2 linked regions of the Homo sapiens genome follow. The protein of the gene in region 1 purifies or fractionates together with the protein of each later gene. This does not show direct contact. Each region holds a gene or a part of one and is shown on either strand. Other genes may lie near its edges.

Region 1 (3,829 bases):
GGGGGTAGGAAGGAGTTGATATTTACATTTACTCTGGCCTCTGGAGGTAGAGCCTGAGCTAGAGAACAGAAACCCGCAAATCAAGAGACTCACATTACAATCCTGGTTCTGATACCAGCCCACTGTCTGGTGTTGACCAACATGATTGAAACAACTAATATTTACAGGGCTTTTTATCAGGTCTCAGGCTCTGTGATGAGCATATTACATGCTACCTGCTTTGCAACATTGAAGGTTCACAAAATCCCAATGACATGGATATTCTTATTGTTCCCATTTTACAGATGAAGAAAATAAGGTACAGGGTTTAAGTGCCTTGTCCAAGATCACCAAACACTAAGTAGCAGGGCCAGGATTGTAATGTAACTTTAGTGAAACACAACTCCATGTTAACAATGAATTTTTGTACCAGAGATTCTGCTCTGGGCTTCAAAAATTGCTTACACAAAAGCAAAGTGTGAACTATACCAGGAATAAACAAACTTCCATGCAAATGGGTCTAATCAGAAAAAATTAGAATGTTTGTAATACACATGCTTTTCTAAACATAAATATTTATTTCAATATGGAAGTACAACATCTGCAACAGTACTTATGCATTTTTTTTACTATTTTCCTGTCACTGAAGTGTTTTACCTCAGGGCTAGAATTTCAGATACTACATCATTACCACTCACTGTGCCATTTATACTCAAGCTTTAAATACATAGTGTCTGAAATAAAATCTAGTTTGGTAGGTGGTAATGAGTTGGCATGTACAGGTAGAGGGAAGGTTGTTGAAGGATCTGGGGATACAAAAGTACCAATATTCAGTGAAATTAGAGCCAAAAAGGAGATTCCTACTTAAACAAGTGGGACAGGGGTGCTATATATGGAAAGGAGTCTGATTGGGATACAGAAAAAGAGGGTCTATGAGATATGACATGAATGAATTACTTTCTTTCTCCACTCCCAGCTTATACATTGGCAAGGTGGAAGTATGTTTTCTTGGGGGGAAGGTGGGGTTGGACAGGCAAGTTTATCTCTTGCTGTATTGTCCCATGCTTGTTCAGTAACTTGTTCAGTTGTCTCAGTCTGTAACTCATCCCCATAGTGGGAGTTCCTTTATTCAACCTACCAGTGTCAGATCTGGCAAGAACTCAGAGAATCCTACTAATGGGACAGTGGGAAGGGGGTTGAGAAGTTCACATATAAGACAATGCATCTGCATTGTTTTATGTCCATTGATCTTATTGGAGTACTGGGATACGAAGACCTGACCTGCTTTTTAGCTATTCCCCAGAAGACAGAAAAGGGAAAATTTTTCAACCCAGTCAAATTTATTAGAGCAAATGAGTTGAGGGGTATTCTGACAAAGAGAAATATACAAACATAGAGCCTTCCTATGCTTTGGATAATAATGAATTACTCATTGACATTCTGAATGCTCTGCCATAGGATTGGCCTCTTCCACAGCCAACAAAGTTCAGCCAGGGTTCAATCTTCATCCCATCATAAGGGAATGCAAGTCCAAGCTCACATCAATCACACCAGGCTATATTATTTATTTATTTCCCATTGCAATACACACGTGCAATTAGCCAATGGCCTTTTTCCCAACTACGCTTCCGTTGGGTTCACAACTTTCCCTAGAAAGAGAATACTCCTTGTGCTTCTCTCCAAAATCAACAACATGAAAGATCTATCAATTTGGATAATAGGGTGTAGGAAAGTGTTTTCAGGCTGATCCGAAAGTTCAACTTCAGGGACAGCTGCAGCTTCAGTTCCCTTTTCACCAATGTGCAGCACAGCCTTATGGGCAGCCTGTGTGGGGAGAACAAATCCTGCGGGTCTCTGAAGAAACAGGAACAGTCTTTGGGAAGGTCTAGAAGTAAGAAAGGGAAAGGAAAGGTGGGGCCGCCCCTTTGCTATACTATGTTGATGGTGCTAGAATATGAAGTTTCCTCTGCTAAATGTAGTCAATCATTCTCTGGCGATTCTACGGCTAGCCATTGGGAAACACCTCATTCACTATGGCCTGCTGCCGCCAGGAGTCACCTCTTAAGCATTCCCTCCTCACACCTCCTTCAGAACTGCATCTCACCAGAGTCACTTCTGATCATTAAGCTGTTCTATCAGAGTAATTCTGGGACATAAAGGTCAAGGATGGAAGAAACTGATACAATTACTTATTTGGAGTAATGGGAATGACTCTGGAGTGATTCTAGCTTAGGAGGAGTCACACCGCCTCTCTAGGCATCAGATTGCTAATTGGTAAAATAAGAAAGTTGAATCAATTGACTCCTAATTGCTCTTCCAGTTCATACATTTAAGAACTCTAGTTTATCAACTTACATTGGAAAGTTTCAGACCATTGTCCTCTGTGAGTCCAGAAAAATCAGCATTTTCAGAATAGGCATGCTGAATGCCCATCTTCAAAAGTGTGGCTCCAAGGTCATATGTGGCAGAAATGGAAAACTTTGGAACAAACAAGTCAACCCATCTGTGGGAAAAGAGGAAGGGAACACATGGCAATCACCATATCAAGCTTATGATTCTCTCCTTCTCTCTCTCATGATGGTATTATATTGGACTCTGCTTCTTCCCTGAGTATTGATAACCATTACTATGTAAGTCAATACATGGCACCAAACTCACAGAAGTTATTCTGAAAGGAATGCACTCAGGTACAGCCAATGTTGGACTGAAGCACTGGGAGTAGGGAGATGTAACTCCTTTATAATCAAGAGAAAATATCCCTGAGGTGACGACCAAGGTTGGGGAGCTAGTGGCATGAAGGTTAATGGGTAGCACCCAGGAGCTTCACAGTTTTCTGCCTTGCACTTCCAGTACAGAGTGGCTGCCCAATCACCTTTCAACATCAAAATCCAACCTGTTCTTTGAGCTCTAGTTGGTCTACAGGAAGCCATCAATTTACTAATAGGCTGACTTTGGGGAGCTCATCTTATCTTTCAAGACCAGACTTCCTAATTTGAAAAATGCCAATTATACTGCCTCCTTTGTAGGTTTGTTGATGTGCTTGGATGATATGAAGTATGTAGAATGCCCAGCCAAGGGCCTGGTAGACAGTATTTTCTTGGCATATTCTAGTGATCATACATAGCTGTTGGGTAGTTCAGGGTGATTCTTCTGCCTCTGGGTTTCTGCTGAACTCTGTCTCACCTGCACTTTTATGCCCACCTTCCACCCACACATCCTCTAAGGCATTTACCCCTTCTGTAGTAAGCGGTTCCACTTCTTCAGTGTTTTAGATGACATGGCAGCTTCCACTGACTCCATCTGTCCCTCCTTGGGAAGAACAAAGAGTGCCAGAGCATTCTTGCTGTAGTCCATTTGCAGAACTGTGCAGTTCAATTCCATATCCACTAGGTGATAGTATTGTTCCATCTGGTGCATCATGGGCACTTGAACAGTGGTGGTCTTGTCTATTAAGAAGCTGGAACTGTCTTCTGTCTTGGATGGATCAAAAGGATTTGCCCACTGGGCTTAAAATACAAAGAAAAGAGAGGTGTTTATTTTAAACCGGTATCAGTACCAACAAGACCTTTTCCATTAGTGATTTCATTTAGAAATTAAGATCACCACAGAGTTAGGTACCTACAGTCAACCAGTTTTACAAGTGACTGAGGATCAGGCAGAGAAAGTCATTTGTCATGGTCTCCCAGTTAACAGGTGGCAGAGCCAGGAATCATACCCAGGGCTGTTGGGCTCCACAGTCTGTATTCAAAACTACTATACCACACTAAGCCCATCAGAGCCATAGTTTCCTCTTCCATAAAAAGGTATAACGACATCCAACACACTAGGGAGAAGTGAGAAAACAGATCTG
Region 2 (7,047 bases), on another chromosome or scaffold:
TGTTCACAGTGCATATTGATTTATCAGGAAATATAAGAATCCCACTATAAACAACAACCAAGTTTTTCCAGTACTCTCTGGAATTTCTTTCATATGCTCAAAGTATCTCAAATCCTTTGAGCTTTACTGCTATAAATCATACCTTCTGCAAGCAGACAAGGGAAAGGAAAACCTTCTCTATTTTTCTCTATGGATAATACTGAGAAACAAAAAGCAATGTGCCAACTACCACACATGGCTTTTCTCACCCAAGTGAAACTCTCGATTCCCTCTCTAACCTTCTAGTCCTCAATCTTTTCTGTTTCATATTCATAAAAAGCTTCCTTTTGCAAATGGGTAAATTCAAGCCCAGATGATGATTAACTTAAGCATGGCTACATGAACGGGTAATAGGGAACTAGAGTACCCAGGAACCCCCAAGAGGTCAATTAACTTGAACTAACCACTAAAAGGGTCTATCTTCAAGTGACTGTAACCAGTACTATGTAGCAGTAAACACTGTCAATTTCATTTGCAGCCAAGTTGTTCCCTTAGTACAGTGTCTGGATAAATTAATGGGAAAAGATATCTATCACACCCTACTATAGATTCAATTACATCACAAGGCAATATTTTCTGAAAGTAAATAATGTTGACTGTATCCAAAATTAAGTTTCAAAACAAAGGAAAGAATACCCTTATGTATATTTTTCTATAAACAAAATCAAAAGTCGACATCTCATTTGGCTGGGACTAAGCAAAACTATGAGAATAGGTCAGTAATTCAATCACGCTTGATCTAGAAACTGGCTGAAGCAGTACTTTTATTTTTGTTGACCACATACACAGTTTCCCATGTAAGATGAAATGGACAATAAATACATCTAAATAGCAGAGACAAAGAAGGACGAATAGAAATAAGATTTTTTCCAAAAGCCAATTTGCAATAAAATACATTAAAAACGTGCCTTTAAATGGCTATACACGCATATAGATTTGGAAGGGGCTACTTGTTTTTTGAAGCTAAACTCTGATTACTTTCCAACATGTCAGCTTTGTAGCTCAGATATAATTGAGTGTGAGGCCAGGTTTAAGATGATGGACAATTTAAGGTTGGGAATAAGATCAGAATTGAAAATGGCAATGTTTCTTTTGCTCCCCCTTACAATAGATCATAGAGGATTTATAATAATATTTGAGATGCCAACAAAATGCACCCTGTGGAACAGCTATTTGAAAACCACACAAGGGCACCGTACATACTCACATTACTAAACACTTTCTACAACACAACACAGACCCATCTAGACCTTGCTCCTGTTGATGCCTATTGTATTTGGTTTCCTCTGAACACGTACCATTTCTCAAGTTATGTTACAACCGTGAGCTCTTCTAACATCATGCCTCAGTACTGAAGAAGCATCAGTGATGTGATGATTCTCCAGGTAACCTGTTTTGAGGAACCCAGGCAGGGCAATGCTTGCAAGCAAAGAATACCAACTATCTTGCCATTGCCAACGGCAAATGGGTAACAGCGTGGCTTTGACCCAAGAAAACTAAAGGGAAAAATCATGGCAGTTGTACCGCTTTTGTAGTGTTTATTTACATCAACCACAGGGTTATCTCTAGGAATGGCTTCACACTCATTAGAGATCTCTTTTCTTGATTAGTGTTGTAGAGATACAAACAGTTCATATTATGAAATTCGGTTTTGATAACATCAATTTGAATATAAATAGCTAAACCATAGAGTTCTTGGCCTTCTTAAAATGAATACGTTTCTATAGGCATTGCTTAACAGTGTATGAAAAACCGTTTCTGCAGTGGCTATCAGTAAGTTACAAGGTTGAGACGGTCTGGGAGGCCCTAAAATGATCCTGGTCCGGCGAACATAGAGGGAAGAGGTTTCAACACGCAAGCGGCTAAGGCTAAACCAAGCTTGGCTTATGAGACCCTTGGAGTATTTACTGTCATTCCTGTAATAACCTTCTTCATCTGAGCCTGAAGATCTGTGCCCTCTCCACCGCCCACCTCCAATCCCAGACTGGAGAGCAATTCCGCTTCCTGCGCACAGAAGAGGAGGCTGCCGGTCCCAGGTGGCCGGTGCAGATCCTCGGTCTCTGCAGAGCGAAAGATTTTGGTCTTCCTGCAGTCCTGCCTAGCAGTCTGCAAGGCGGCTTCCAAGCACAGAAACGACAGGATTGATCAAAGTCGGGGCAGAGACCTCGGAATACAATGAGTGCTTGGACTCCAGACTCGTCCCAAACCTAAACTCCCAATTCCTGTTCAAAAGGCGGTACAAGCCCAAATCCCAATAAAGCAGAAGGGCAAAGGAGCAGCGCCAGGGAGCCTTTCCAAACAAACCCCACCATCAACCTGCCACTGGGAAAACGCCCACCGAGCCCTTAGCGCATCTGCCGGGGTGATGCACCCACCGAGGTCCCCGCAGCGCGGGCAGGAAAGCTTTGGTTGCGGCGTGGGGAGCCCAGACGCGCGGCGCGCAACCACATCTACCCTCCGAGCCCAGGCGGATTGGGGGGGTGGGAAGGGGACGCTGTGAGCCACTATTGGGGAAGCCGGGGACCACCGCAAGCAACCCCCCGCCTCAGCAGAGGAAAAATAAAACGCTGGCAACAAGTGGGAGGTGCAGCCCCCATGGTCAGGCCCGAGGGGCCGGGCGCAGGCAGAGCGGGAGAAGGCAGACACAGGGACCCGGAGCGCGCCCACCCCCGCGTTCAGCCCATCCCGCCTGCGACCCCCGGGCCGGCCAGGGGCTGCGGAACTCCCGTCCCCGCACAGCCCAGGCGGCGCCGCCGCGGAGACCCCCGGGGCCGGCGGAGACCCCAAGGCCAGCCGCCCCGAGGCCAGCCGCCCCTCCAGCGCACTCACTGCTGCATTCGTCGTCCGCGCAGAGTTTGTGCTCCGAGAACCGCCGGCCAGTGCTGGGGTCCAGCTGGCCCGGCACCCGCCAGGGCAGCCGGAGCACGAGCAGCCAGACGAGCAGCCCAGGCGCCGCAGCCATGTTGTGGTCACCTCGGGGAGCCGGTGACGCGGAGGAGGAGGCCGGGGCGGGCGCAGAGGGGCGGGACGGGGGCGGGGACGGGGCGGGGACGGGGGGGCTGGGGCGGGGGCTGGGGCGGGGACGGGGCGGGGACGGGGGCGGGGACGGGGGCGGGGGCGGGGGCGGGGACGGGGCGGGGACGGGGGCAGGGACGGGGGCAGGGACGGGGGCAGGGACGCGGGCAGGGACCAGGCGGAGCGCCGGGGGCATGTGGGAAGACAAGCGCAGAGGGGCGGCGCCCGCGAAGGTCTGAGCAGTTTCCGACTGACACGTCAGCAGAGGCTCTAGGAGGGATGCGGGAGACCTCCAGGAGGAGGACTGACAGCAGCCTCCTCCTCTCCTCGAAGCCTTCTCCTCTGGTCGCTGCCGTGGCAACCAGGACTCCCTCGCCCAATCACCTGCCTTTGCCCCAGTCCCTCGCAGCACCTCCGCGTGACTCCATTCTTAGTTCACCCCTCCCCGCGCGCTTGGGTCCCCCAACCCTGCGCCATCTCAACAGGTCCCTTCTGGCGCCTTCTCGCAGTTTCTGGTTTGTGGCCTGTCCCGAACCAGCCCCCCACTTCACCCCGCTACTTCACCCCGCTACCCCCACTCTTGGCATGGTACCTCCTTTTCTGAACTGCCAAATCCCACCCGCGATTTGCCACTGTTAGTCTCTGGTTTCAGGCTCCCTCCTTTTCAGCCTCCCAGGGCTTCCTTGGGGGCACCATCCCGTGGTGCTCTTTGATTAAGAAAGGGGGAGGTGAGTGGAATAGGGGGCTGAGGATATAAATCAGAGCCCGTGGCCTGCTTGGTCGTTGATAGAAATGGGTAATGGTCCTTGGGCTGAGATCTTGAGATTCCTAGATCTATATCCATAGGAAAAAAGTAAATTAATTTAATAACAGTGTGATGAGCTTCCATTTTATACTTATTTCATGCCAGAATTAAGATTAATCTTCACAACAATCGCACCTTAGAGTAGTAGGTCCTATTATGATCCCCATTTCAGAGATGACTACCTTAAGGCATTCAAACACCTAGTGAGTGATGGAGCTAAGATTCAAACCCAGGTAGTATGCTCCTTTTTAATCACAGCTCTGTAAAGCCTCCATCAAGCAACAAGCAATTTTTGTACTTTCTTTCTGAGCAGGGAAGCAAAATCTTATTTAAATCATACTATAACTGGATGATTTATATGTGCAGTTAAAAAAGCGGGGGACTGCATGAGCAGGTCAGCCCAGAGAAGAGTGGCTACAATGCTCTCCAGAAGAGTGGCTACAATGCTCTCCAGCCCTGGTTGAAGAACTTGGCATCTGTCTGTGACCAGCAGCTTCTCATTGCAATCTCTAAGGTTACTCATCAACCTTGAACAACAAACCCAGCAGCTGGTTTCCCAAACAAATCGTATTACTTAAAAGCAAGAAGAAAGAATGTGGCTTGTCTGTGCAATCCATTATATCGAATAAGGAAAAAACGGTAAACAGATGCTCACAAATTTTTGTCTGTAGGAGCCGTGAGAGTTCCTACTGGGCCAATGTAATTCCAATGCTGTCTTGAGAAATATACATTTGGTAAGGTCACGGACAAGCACTTTCTATCCAAGTAGTAGTTCTGTTCATTCTTCATTTCTTTTCTACTGTGTATTTATTTGTTTTAATATCTTAGATGTGTCTAATAGGCATCTCTAACAATATGTTGAAAACCAAACTCTTTATCTTTTTCTCTCAAACTCTGCTCCTTTCGGTCTTCCCTATTTGAGGAATAGGAATGACAATTTAATTCCTATCTTCTAGGTGCTTAAGCCAAAAACATACAAACCATCCTCGACCTCTTTTTTCTCACACCCAAGTCCAATCCATCAGACAATCCCATGTCTTTTTTAATAGCTTTGTTGAAGTATAATTAACCTACAATAAATTGCACATGTTTAAAGTGTACAATGATAATTTTTGACATATGTCTACACCCATGAGACCATTACCACAATGAAGTTAATTAACATATTCATCAACATCACCTCTGAAAGAGTTCTCATGATCCTTTATAATCCCTCCCTCCCTTGTCCCAGCTGTCTTCAGACAACCTTCTGTCACTGCAGATTGGTTTGCATTTTCTAGAATTTGATATAAATGGAATAATATCGTATACATTCTTTTTTTGTCTGACTCTTTCACTCAGCATAAACATTTGAAATACATTCAGAATCTGACCACTTCTCCCCATCTCCAGTGCCAGCAGTGCAGGCCAGGCCACCCATCTCTCACCTGAATAACTGCAATAGCCTTGTCATGTTCTTGCTTCTGCTCTTGCCCTTCCAAAGTCATAGTCTCAATAGTAGCTAAAGCAATTGTTTTATGAAATAAATGTGGTCATGCCTCTCCCCTGCTCATAACCTTCCCATGGCTTCCCATTTCCAAGTAAAATGCAATTACTTTTTTATGGAGTACACTGTCTTATTTAATTTTACTCCTCTGCCCTTTTACCCTCATTTCCTAACACTCCTCCCTTGCTCTGTTGGTTCCACTCAGATACACCAAGCCTAATCCTGCATTCGTGTATCTGCACTTGCAATTTTCCGTCAGCCTGGAATAATTCCCCAAATAGTCTGCCTGGCTAACTAGTTTCCTCACTTCATCGTGTCTCTGTAACAGTGCCATATCTTACAAGTGAGGCCTTCCCTGATACCCCTACGTAAAACAGAACTCCTTCTCATGACTAGCTGGCTCATCACTGTGCTTTATTTTTCTTTAGAGCGTTTACCACCTGCCTTATGTTTATCTACTTTACTGCCACCCAACCTCCAATATAAGCTCCATGGAAGCAGCGGATTTGTCTGTTTTGTTCACTGCTGTAATATCAGTGCCTAGAACAATGTCTGGAATATATAAGGTACTCAACAAATGATTTGTTGAATAAACCCACAGATCTTCACACATTATAAATATATTATGCTATTAACCTAAATAAAGCCTCCATAAAATGAATAGTACCAAAAGGGAATATACCATGAAAACAAGGCATTTGGTGTCTTCCCCTCAGTAGCATCCTTACCGCCAAGGACAGAACCTGAAATGTATTTACTGTTGAATGAGGGTGTATTTGTTGCAGAGGGAGTGGATGAAATAGCATGTATTTTTTCCCAATATACTACCAGAATATTAAAGCAGATTTAAAACATGATTTTATCTTATTTCTCCTTAGATTAGAATTAATAACAATTAATTGATGAAAAAAACAAAACTCCAACATGATCTAATCGAATATTATTACTTTACAAAGTGAATAATATTCACTTTGACTAATATTTACAAAAGCTTTTACATGAAAGGTCAGAGCTCTCTGTTACTGAAGAACTAGCTACTTAAGTGTGTAGATTTTATAGGGTTTTGATTTATTTACATTTTTGAAAAAATCATTTTCTTAAAAAGATATTGACAAGCCTGGTGGATAATTAGAAGACAGTTCTCAGCTGACCATAGTGAAGGTAGGGGTGGTGGTTCTTCCTCCTAGCATATATAAAATTAGGGGATGAATCAGAATTCATTTTCACTCATAGCGTTTGAATATGTGGCATTGATGTTTAACATAAACTCTAATCCTACATGTATTATTTGGTAACACTTCAAATGGAATTTTCAAATGGGTAAAGATTAAGTAAGAGTTAAAAATAAATTTGCCTAGTTTTGGGTGGAAGATACATAGAAATGTAACATTGGAGGGTTTCTGACCTCAGGGAATTTGCAGTCTAAATGAGAAAACAAGAGATAACTGAAACAAATAGGAGACATCGCAATAACATATATCATTGTAAACTTGCCATGGTGCCTAGCCATGAACATCCAGAAGGTCTAACACTGAAGTTACCAGTAAGAACCTAGAATCTATTGCCAATGATAAAATCTATTGCCAATGATAGAATCTATTGCCAATGATAAAATCACTCAGTGTTTAGAGAATGGAGTCAAACATTTATTGAGGACTATAGCTTCCATCCAAGATGGAGTAACAGGGACAGGATTTACCCT

The links. Proteins that work in one complex are often made in the same cells at the same time.
Region 2: the proteins of SERPINA7 (region 1) and MIA3 purify together in Homo sapiens (affinity purification with mass spectrometry; 3 studies listed by BioGRID and IntAct, with this or other methods). This does not show direct contact.

The regions. Positions count from the first base shown.
Region 1 is NC_000023.11:106,031,901-106,035,729, forward strand, and holds the end of SERPINA7 (thyroxine-binding globulin precursor), read right to left. Parts: intron 3,486-3,829; coding exon 3,212-3,485; intron 2,483-3,211; coding exon 2,335-2,482; intron 1,865-2,334; coding exon of another isoform or gene 1,804-1,864; coding exon 1,600-1,803; 3' UTR 535-1,599; downstream 1-534. UniProt on the Homo sapiens protein: Major thyroid hormone transport protein in serum.
Region 2 is NC_000001.11:222,614,065-222,621,111, reverse strand, and holds the start of MIA3 (transport and Golgi organization protein 1 homolog isoform 1 precursor), read right to left. Parts: upstream 3,016-7,047; 5' UTR 3,002-3,015; coding exon 2,869-3,001; intron 1-2,868.